Homo sapiens: one gene and its partner. Each later gene encodes a partner of the first gene's protein in a complex. Each region holds a gene or a part of one and is shown on either strand. Other genes may lie near its edges.

What was found. Proteins that work in one complex are often made in the same cells at the same time.
Region 2: ZMAT2 (region 1) and SF3B3 share a complex: the UniProt entries of both Homo sapiens proteins name them as parts of the spliceosome B complex.

The regions. Positions count from the first base shown.
Region 1 is NC_000005.10:140,702,372-140,708,159, reverse strand, and holds the end of ZMAT2 (zinc finger matrin-type protein 2), read right to left. Parts: intron 4,243-5,788; coding exon 4,169-4,242; intron 3,735-4,168; coding exon 3,589-3,734; intron 2,548-3,588; coding exon 2,404-2,547; 3' UTR 1,474-2,403; downstream 1-1,473. UniProt on the Homo sapiens protein: Involved in pre-mRNA splicing as a component of the spliceosome.
Region 2 is NC_000016.10:70,560,566-70,565,681, reverse strand, and holds part of SF3B3 (splicing factor 3B subunit 3), read right to left. Parts: coding exon 5,091-5,116; intron 4,053-5,090; coding exon 3,898-4,052; intron 1,807-3,897; coding exon 1,632-1,806; intron 618-1,631; coding exon 412-617; intron 315-411; coding exon 158-314; intron 1-157. UniProt on the Homo sapiens protein: Component of the 17S U2 SnRNP complex of the spliceosome, a large ribonucleoprotein complex that removes introns from transcribed pre-mRNAs.

The DNA.
Region 1 (5,788 bases):
GCAGTGAGCTGAGATCGTGCCACCGTACTCTAACCTGAGTGACAGTGACACTCTCAAAAAAAAAAAAAAAAAAAAAAAAAAACTGAACCATGGAAGGAACTCACAAACCTCCAGCCTGCCTTGAAAGGGGTAACAAAATACCTAGTCAACAAGAAGACTGTCACCCAAGGGACCTGAAGTGCACATAATCCTGCCAAGGAAAGCACGCACCAATCTGCCCCCAGTTGCCCAGTACTTACTGTATCTAAAACTGAGCCAGGCCTTCAGCCCATAGGTGAAGATACATTCAGTGTTCCCAGTGGCAAGATTCAGCATCAGAAATTAGACAAAGGGCATGTCTTACAGTAAGGGAATTTTGTACAAAAGTCCAAAGGGAGGTGTATGGTGCTTTGTGGTTCAGATAATACAGAAAGTTGAGGAGCTTGATGGGGCAGAGAATGAAAACCAGCTATATGGTGGCAGCCTTGTTAACCCAAACAGATTCATTTACAGGTCCATTTTTTCAGGGTATAGAACCAGCAAGTTACAGGCTTCATCTGCTTGAAGTTAATGTGACTGTAGTTCTTCGTGTATGTATGGCTATTTTTTTCTTCTGCATCCCCTTGACTTGGCATAGTACTTGATCCAGTGGATATCAAAGTTTTGTGAGTTTCTGTTTTGAGTTTGCCAGTCTGTGCCATCTAATTCTCAAATCAGACCAAGGTAGGGAAGACAGCTAGCTTCTTCTTAGTGGTCTTCAATGTGGGTAGGGAGGGATTTTGCCTTTCTCAGAGGCATAGACATTTTTAGTTGTCACAATTGTGGAAGAGGGTGCTACTGGCATCTAGCAGGTAGAGTCCAGGGATGAAGTTAATCCTAAATCAAAATCAAAATAATAAACATCCTACAATGCCAGCATTGGTTTCTACAACAAATGATAATCTGGCCCAAAATCTCAACAGTGCCAAAATTAAGTAATTCTGTGTCTAGCAGACAGTAAGAAAAACACTAAGGGCCAGGTGCAGTGGCTCACGCCTGTAATCCCAGCACTTTGGGAGGCCGAGGCAGGTGGATCACCTGAGGTCAGGGGTTTGAGACCAGCCTAGCCAACATGGTGAAACCCCATCTCTACTAAAAATACAATATTAGCCACTTGAAGCCAGGAGGCGGAGGTTGCAGTGAGCCAAGATTACGCCACTGCACTCCAGACTGGGCGATAGAGCAAGACTGTCTCAAAAAAAAGAAAAAAAAAAAAGAAAAAACATTATGTTCAATCCTGAGCTCTGCTGTTCCAAAAACAAAAGATCAAAGGAGTCTGAAATGATAGGAATCGTTTTGGTTCAGACTTCTCTGGACATAGATCCCTTATCAGACGAAAACATAACTCATGCTAAAAAAAAACCTAGGCAAAAATAAGATTTAAAATGGAAGAATAAAATACTCTATATGGAAATCCTCAGCATGAGAAGGAAAAACAAATATTCACAGGGAAGATTATGGAATGTTCTCACCAAATGTAAAACAGGCCCAGTCAATGCCATTTATTATACATGTCAAACAGCTTCTAAGACCGACGGGCTCCCATAATAAGGTTTTGGGGATTTTTTGTTTTGTTTTTCATTTTCTTTTTTGCATCAAACAGGTTCTTCCAAAAGCCTGCTCACAAGGTAGACAAAAACATAAATCTTCAGGAAAATGAAACATGAGAAGCTGAAACAATCTACACCTGAATGTTAAAAAACTCATCAGACACAAACCACACCAAACACTCATCCCATTTAATTTCCTGTTACATGCTCTGAGGAAGCCAAGAACATCAGGCCCCAGGGCAGCAATGCTCTAGGATTCCAGCTCGGACCCCCTCTATATGACAGATTCATGCACACACATCCACACACCATAGAACCAGGCAGAAATACACATGCATGCACAGGTGGCTAGAGAACCATAGGGCAGGATGGGAAAAAGGGCTGATCAAGGATATGCAATCAACTGGAAACTGGGACCTAGAGAATGCTTCTGTTGCAGGATGAACATGAGTTAAAATTAAAACAAAGGCAGAACACAGGATAAAGGTGGGATGTTCAGACAAGAGGTGGGATAGATGAAGAGATAAAGATGCAGGGGGAGTTTTGGGAAAGCAGCCTCAGAAGGGGAGGTTTTTCTTTATTGGGAACTCAGGTGGGCAGGGTCCTGTGACTCCAGTGATACACTGAGGCAGAAGCAATATGCCACAGCATTACCTCTGCAATCTGTGCCCTCTCCCAAAGTAGAGGGAAACCATGAGCCCCCACCCTCTATCCCTCCCCATTGACACTCTTAAGAACTTTCCCATTACCCAAAAAGAAATGACCCCCTACTACACACACACACACGCAAAGTTAGGTCCAGCATAGGCCAAAGTCAGGCCAAGCACAGAAAGCCTCAGTAACTCTTCTTGGTGGAACCAAAGCCAGAGAAGCCCATCACAGCTGCCATCTCATCGTCCTCCTCAAATGTCAAGTCCTCCTCAGCCCTCCTTTTCTTCTCCTTCTGTTTCTCTTTCTTGTACGCTTTGGCCTTTTCCTCCTGGAGGGAAAAATCACTCAGAATCAGTTTAGACTCCTCAGCCAAATGTTGTTTGTAACAACAACTAACATTCTGGGGCATGCAGTACATGCCAGAAATTGCTCTGAGTACTTCATGTATATTAAGATCTCTAATATGGGGATATTGAGGCACAAAGAGGTTATATAACTTGCCCAAGATTCACAGCCAGTAAGTGGAAGAAACAGAATTTTGACCCAGTCAGCCTGATTTCATGGGTCTCTTTAGGACTAGGTACATTTAGTTAATTCCTCTTGCAGTTAAAAAAAAAAAAAAATTATGGGGGAGGCTATGCATGTTGTGGGGGACAGTGGGTATATGGGAAATCTTTATAACTCCCTCTCAATTTTGTTGCAAACCTAAACTCCTCTAAAAAAAGTTTAGTCTTTTAAAAAAATTAAATCAAAGAATACAGATGAGACAGTCCTCAACTTATGATGCTGACAAGATTTTTCAATTTTATAATGGTGAAAAACTGACATGCATTTGAAACTGTACTTCAAGTATCCATACAACCATTGTTTTTCACATTCAGTACAGTATTCAATAAATTAATGAGATGAATACTTTATTATAGAATAGGCTTTGTGTTAGATAATTTGGGTCAATTGTAGGCTAATGTGTTCTGAGCACATTAAGGTAGGCTAGGCTAAACTACAGTAGGTTAGGTGTATTATGTATTTTTGACTTATGATATTTTTAACTTGATGATAGGTTTATCAGTAGGTAACCCCATCAGAAGTTGAGAAATATCTGTATGACCAAAAAAAAAAAAAATTTTTTTTTAAATTACAAAAAAAAAAATAAGGCCCAGAGAGTCTAGGAGAAAAAAGTAGTTTCAGAGCCATTTCCTTCAGATCATGAGAATCCTAAACAAAGGCAACAAATGTTTCCGCTAATATACAGAACTCAGGAGATACAACTCTGGGGGTGGGAGTAGGAGTGGGATGAGGACAGGGTCTCCCATGATTCATAACATAAAACTCAAATCTGGGGGAGAGGGGAAGGATAGGAGACCCTTACCTCTTCTCTGAGCTCCTTCATCCTTTCCTCAAAATCATAATCCTTCTGCTTCTCTTCCATCTTCTTCTTGTTGACCTCAAAACGTTTCTTCACCTGATCCAGGGTGGAACGTTCCACACGCATAGACATGCCCAGGTTTCTCTGATCTGCATAGGGTCAACAGTGAAGAAGGCAAGTTCATTACAACATCCTCAGCCCCTCAAAAATTATTTTCCTGACTTCTCTGACATCTCATAAAACACACAGCAAAAATAATTATGGCTAAAAGAAACTCCCTTGGCCAGCTGGGTCCAGGAGCAGCACATGGTTTGGGTGCTGTTGAAAGCCTCATGGCCTCCAGAATGAGGCCTCTTACCTCACGGCCTCCAGAAATATTACATAATGAAGTAAAAGACGGCCTGTGCTGAAACAACTGGAGAGTTCTAATAGGGGCATCAAAAAAGAGCCCAGTAGAAACTACCCTTCTTACTCCAGCCATCTTTTGATGAGTAAAAAGAAGAAAAAAAAAGCTACCCTTCCATTCCACCCCACCTCCAAAACCCAATTCCAGCCCTAGTCACAAGCTACCTCCAAGCCTTACGTTTCTTTCCATTAATGTGATCCAGAAAGTTGATGGAGTCCTTCACCACACAGTCACAGACATTGCAGTAATATCTAACAGGAAGAAACAGCACCTGAGTCAAATATGGTTTTAAGGATCTTATCATTTTCAACCAAGAAACTCAAATTTTTAGGTAAACTTCTTTTTAGAAGTGTTAAGCCTTCATTTCTATAAAGCCTTAGCTTTCGAGAGAGTATAGCAGTCATCTTCCAAGACAGCCCCAGGATGAGCCCCACCCTCTTGGTATTCCTACTCTGTGTAGTCTCTTCCCAATTTGTACCAGAGTTGGTCTGTTTGGCCAATAGAATATGTCAAAAGTAGTATCTTCCAAAATTAGGTTATTTTAAAAACCATGCCTTCTGTCTTTGTTTGGGTTACTTGCTCTGGGGAAGCCAGTTGCTTTATTGTGAGCAGTCTTATAGAAAGGTCTATGGGGTGGCCGGGCATGGTGGCTCACGCCTGTAATCCCAGCACTTTGGGAGGCCGAGGCGGGCGGATCACCTGAGGTCGGGAGTTCGAGACTAGCCTGACCAACACGGAGAAACCCCGTCTCTACTAAAAATACAAAAAAATCAGGTGGTGCATGCCTGTAATCCCAGCTACTTGGGAGGCTGAGGCAGGAGAATCGCTTGAACCCAGGAGGCGAGGCTGTGGTGAGCCGAGATCATACCATTGCATTTCATCCTGGGCAAGAAGAGTGAAACTCTGTCTCAGAAAAAAAAAAAAAAAGAAAAGAAAAAAGAAAAAGAAAAAAGAAAGGTCTATGGGGCAAAGAACTTAGGCTTCCAAACCACAGGCATGTGAGAGAGCTTGGAAGCAGATCTTCCAGCCCCACTTAAGATTCATATGAATGCAGACCTACCTTGCCAACTCCTTGATTGCAGCTTCATGAAGACCCTGAGCCAGAACCACCTAGGTAAGCCACTCCCAGATTCCTTACCCAAAGAAACTGTGAGTGGTGTAGTTTATGCTGCTAAGCTTTAGGTTAATTTGTTAATTTACATAACAATAGATAACTAATACAGACAGGAATGGACAACAGTGGGTTTACTAAGCAGCTCAGAGAAGTGTCACTCATTGCTATCTGTGTTGCTCTCCTGCCAGAAAACCTAACTGGACAGAGAAGCAGTGGGGGGCAAAAGGGTGACAAGCTCTTGTAGGACCCTTCTTCCTATAGGTTATAGTCTTGGAAGAAGGTGTACAATCAGGCATCCATAACAACTACAGCCTTTGCAGCTAGTCTGGAACCTCAAACCCCTCTTCTTCACCATTAACAACTCCTAGGCTCTATTCTAGCTCCACCTAATTTCTCTCCTAGAAATCTCCTCAGTAGTCCTTTCCTTCATTTCTTCTTCTGACAGATCAAATAATCCCTTTTAAAATATTAATAGTAAATCAGAATTGATAACAAGTACAATGGCAATAAAAAATTTAAAAACTATATTGAGTAGTAGCTGTAGTGCTCATAGTATGATTTTTGTTTGTTTTGGTTTTTTTAATTGAGACAGGGTCTCACTGTGTTACCCAGGCTGGTCTTGAATTCCTGGGCTCAAGCAATCCTCCTGCCTTGGCCTCCCAAAGTGCTGGGAATACAGGCGT
Region 2 (5,116 bases), on another chromosome or scaffold:
TCACTGCAGCTAGAAGGCCCCAGCATTTTCCATGTGCTGGTAAGAGAGAGATTGGAATCAAGGAGCTGGTCCCCAAAAGACCTGATCCATAACATAAGCAAAAGTGAGAGAATTCAATGGGACTTAAAATCTAGGAGAACCACTGGCAGATTCCTACCTTGTGCAAAAACTCCAGTTTTTCCCCATTGTTCACAAGCTTGTAAGTATAGACGAAGCCCCCTGCCACAGATCGGGGGTTTAGTATCAGGTCCTTGGCCACACCCACCAGCACATACCAGTCTTCACCAGTGTTGGAAAACCTGCACACAGCCACACTACACACAGAATAAGAAGCAAGAGTAAGGCCTTAGTCAAAACTCAGAGAGCTCCTGTTCCAGCCTGCCAAACCCTGGACTGTCCTGGGCTGCTTACCTAAAAGCTGCCTCATTCTGTTCCAGCTGGACAAGGTCCAGTGTGTTCCCTTGAATGGGATTCATCACTCGGATCACAGAGGCCCACTGCCCATTGCCAGCCTTGGGAGCTCCAAAGATGGATTCAGGGAGGTTTTCATTGAGGAATGCTGCTGCCATCTCTGCGGCCAGCTCCCGCTCATCCTCCCCTGCTGCTTCCACCATTTCCTAAACCCAAAAAAACGAGTAACTGAGTTGGCGTGCTCAGAGGTAGGGGCTGGCTGAGAAGAGGATAGGTAGCAAGAACACTCCAGGGGGTTCTCAATACATAAAGCAGCAAAGTCAGCCATCCCAGCCAGGATTTCCCGACATGACTATTAAAGGGAGAGGTGTACAGACTAGGGAAGACAGAAGATCAGAAAGGGAAATCCAGACATTGCTGGTTACATATTAGTAGAAAACACCAAAAATAACAATAGCTGTGACAAATATTGGACTAGTGGCTTGAGAAAAATGACAACGGAAACTCCACTTTTCTATCCAACCCATCTGATTTCCCTTACTAAAACTACTCTGTCTCCACTCTTTAAGGATGGATACAGTTCTACGTGGTTGTAGCTATTTGGTTTCTGCTAGGCAATGAGTTCTAGAAAGAGCTGGTGTTGTGGAGAACATGAAAGCTGTCTCTTTTGGGCCCAAATAAAGGAAATACAGTCTATTTTGGAAGCTCAAGGACGGGAGAATTCTGTTTCAGAGAGGGAACTTAATTGTGAATAAATGGAGGTCAGAGTATAGTCCTGGGTTACAAGAAAGGCTCTAAAATGAAGTACTTTGGGGCAAAGGCCTCTGCTTAAAAAAGCTGAAAAAAGCCTAGATCTTTAAAAACAAAGAATATACTAACAATTACAGGAGTTTAAACTTTTGATAGAGTCTCGTGTCCAGAGTGCCACTGGTATGCAGTGGCATGATCATGGCTCACTGCAGTCTTGAACTCCTGGGCTCAAGTGATCCTCCTGCCTCAGCCTCCCAAGTAGCTGGGACTACAGGAGTGCACCAACACACCAGGCTATCTTTTAAAATTTTTAATAGAGGTGCAGTTTTGCTATGTTGCCCAGGCTGGTCTCGAACTAGTGGCCTCAAGCAATCCTCCCACCTCAGCCTCCCAAAGTGCCGGGCAGTTTAAACTTTTCAACATAATTTCACACATCTTTTAATAGAACCCCTGAACGTTAGTCTCATTACCTCTGCCATCTGCTGCTTTCTCTGAGCTTTCGTGGCCTCAGTGTAGGCATTGTGGTCCGTTTCAATGATAATAAGGTTGTTACTCTCAGGGTGGATGACAAATTTCCTGGGTGTGTACTGCAGTGGGAAGGCTACTTGATTGAAGACAGCACCGAGCTTCTCTAATGCCAAAATCCTATGACAAAAAAGCAAGGCAGTTATTTAATACTCACTCGGACCCAGAAACTGGTGTTGAAATAGACTTTGAGCAGTCAGCAAACACGTCAATCCCTGGAGCTCTAACGTTGGCATTAGGCAACATTAAACAACAGCCTCCTACTCTAGAAAACTCTGCGATGCAGACACAGAGATCCAGGAAGGGCCTTCCCATTTGGCAACACCCTACCACAATTCACAGCAGTTCTAGTTCCTACCAATGAAACACAAACGATTGTCAAAAGTTTTTTTTTAATCACTCCAATGATAATAAAGAGCCCAATCCCAAATTTGTTGTGAAACACTGCAATTACCTAAACATATATGGTATTTGTAGTGACTGTGCTTCATAAAATAAAGTGGATACCTTTGTGAACAAAAATCACCTCAGTTCAGGAAAACTATGACAATGCAAGAGACAGCAAATAAGGGACCTACAAATTTCTGTCAAATGGGACAGAGATGTACACATAAGCCAAACTATGTGCAAAATGAGCAGAACCCAGGTACTCTGAAAAGTATAGTTACCCGATCTCTAATGATGGAGTTTTATTTGTAGTTTATTCTCTACATTAAAAAAGATAGGGGCTGCGTGTGGTGGCTCACGCCTGTAATCTCAGCACTTTGGGAGGCCAAAGCAGGCAGATCACCTAAGGCTAGGAGTTCAAGACAAGCCTGGGTAACATGGTGAAACACCAACTCTGTTGAAAATACCAAAAAAAAAGCCATGTATGGTGGCGCACGCCTGTAGTCCCAGCTACTTGGGAGGCTGAGGTGGGAGAATCTCTTGAGCCCAGGAGCTCAAGACCAGCCTGGGCACCAAGGTGAAATCCTGTCTCTATAAAATAGAACACAAAAATTAGCCAGGCATGATGGCATGCGCCTACAGTCCCACCAGGTACTTGGGAGGTTGAGGCAGAAATAGCTTGAGCCCAGGAAGTTGGGGCTGCAGTGAGCCATGATCACACCACTGCACTCCAACCTGTACAACAGAGTAAGACCTTGTCTCAAAAAAAAAACTTAAAAATAAAAATAATTAAATAAAAAAATAAACTGCCTGCCAAGAACTCTGCTTTTATGTCTCATAAGTCACCTTCCCTGATTTAGTTTTGGGGGGAAGTAAGTTCTGCTGCTAGGAAAGCCTAAAAATCTGTAGCGATTGTCTAAATCTATAGCAATTCAGGAGGTAGGGGCCACAGATGAGGCTACAACAAGGCTGGCTTAAAAGACAAGGGGAACACTGACAGGCAGGTATGTATGTGGGTGAAGCATTCTAGCACAGGTAGAGATTAAAAAAATATTAAGTGATGTAGAGCAGTGCAGGGAGATCAATTCTGCTGGAGCAGAAGATAAATACAAAGATGACGGAAAGAAAAAGGACAATGACCATGAAAAGACCCTGAAAGTTGTTGCAAAGAAATTTTGGGAGCTCATTTGATAAGCAATAGTGATTAATCTATCAAGAGGCCATAGTTTCATTATGAACAGCCAATAGTTATAACCAGGATGTGAACAACTTTGGTGGCTTAATTTTAAAAGCCCCCCAAAACCTGAGGAAGCCAAACTGACTGAATTATTTTAGGTTCTTTTCCATCTTGCAAAGAATATTACATACAGTGCTCAAACTTCACATCAATATTACCAGGAAGAACAGTTTTGTCAACTTGAAAAAGGTCTAAATAACTTATAGATAGGTTAACATTTAAGATTTAATACCGCAAATGACAAGACAGAGTAAGAAAGGTTATCAATGCAGTGATCCAATACTTGCTCTAAAACTAATCCAATGGCAATACCCTTTTGCTAGAAAACAAAAATCTGAAATCTCAGGAAGATTGGACTGTATTAAAGCTTGGCCTTGAAAATCTTAACAGAAGCTAAAACACCGAAACTTGGCTCTCAGGTACTAAAATGCTGAGCCAAATGAAGGTTTCAATTGCAACACACAAGCTTCATGGTGAAGTCGGCTCTCTGCCACCTCTTCACAGCCTCCTCCAACACTCTGGCAGAACCAGTCTGAGCCCTTGGCAGAAAGGCTTCCTGCTGAGCTTCAAACATGAGACTCACTCACCGTAGGGTGTTGGTGGAGATGGCCACAATGCCCTCGGGACACTGTTCCGAGGCAAAACCCGATGCAAATTCCAGTGTCTCGTAAGACAGTGGGGTGAGATGGAAGCGAGATTGGTAAGAATAGCTCAACCATGAGCGGCTTGACATGGCCAATACCTGAGGGGAAAAAAAAAACCCAGCTCCAATAAGGTTTGGGAAAAAATACAAATATGGTATAAGCTGACCAAAAGCCCTATCCCCAAATTTCAGTCTGCAGAGTATCCTAAGATATTCTAGAAATATAACAGGCTATCTTAAGAAAAAGAGGGCTAGAGAGAGGCACTATGGCTTAGCATATGTGAAAAGCATGGGCTACGAGCCATATGATCTAGACTCACCATTTCATCTCTCTAAGCCTGCTTCCACGTGTGTAAAATGAAAACAGTACCACAAGGCTGGACAGCTGCAAGAATTAAATGGAATGAAGGCCAGGTGCGGTGGCTCATGCCTGTAATCCCAGCACTTTGGGAGGCCACGGCAGGCGGATCACCTGAAGTCAGGAGTTCGAGGCCAACCTGGCCAACATAGTGAAACCTCATCTCTACTAAAAATACAAAAATTAGCTGGGCGTGGTGGCATGCGCCTGTAATCCCAGCTAATCGGGAGGCTGAGGAAAGACAATTGGTTGAACCCAGGAGGCGGAGGTTGCAGTGAGCCAAGCTTGCACCACTACATTCCAGCCTGGGCGACAGAGTGAGACTCCATCTCAAAAAAAAAAACAACAAAAAACAGAATTAAATGGAATCAATTAGCACAGTGCCCAGAAACACTAACATTCTTAACTACAAAGGACACAATGTTTCCCAGTCTCTTTCACATTAGGTAGTAAACGTGACACTGATCTAAGACTGGGATAAAACCTGAGAATTCTCATGGCTAGTGGTGTCCTAGAGGGGAGGTTTCCAGCCCTATTTGACCAGCCAGAGGGCTAAAGGGATCGATATCTCTACCCAGCTATAACCAAATCATGACATGGTGCGATGGAGCCCCAGTGAGGAAGCTCTAGGTTAGGAAAACTCAGGACTTCTCACATGAAGGAAACCAATCAAGATGGAGTGGCAAATTAGTGACAGTGAAGCTTACAGCAAAGATTGTTCTCAGATGGTGCCACTAAAATCCCAAAGATGTTGCCTGTCCCCAACCTTCATTACTTACTGCCTCCTGGCCTTGCATTCGGACTC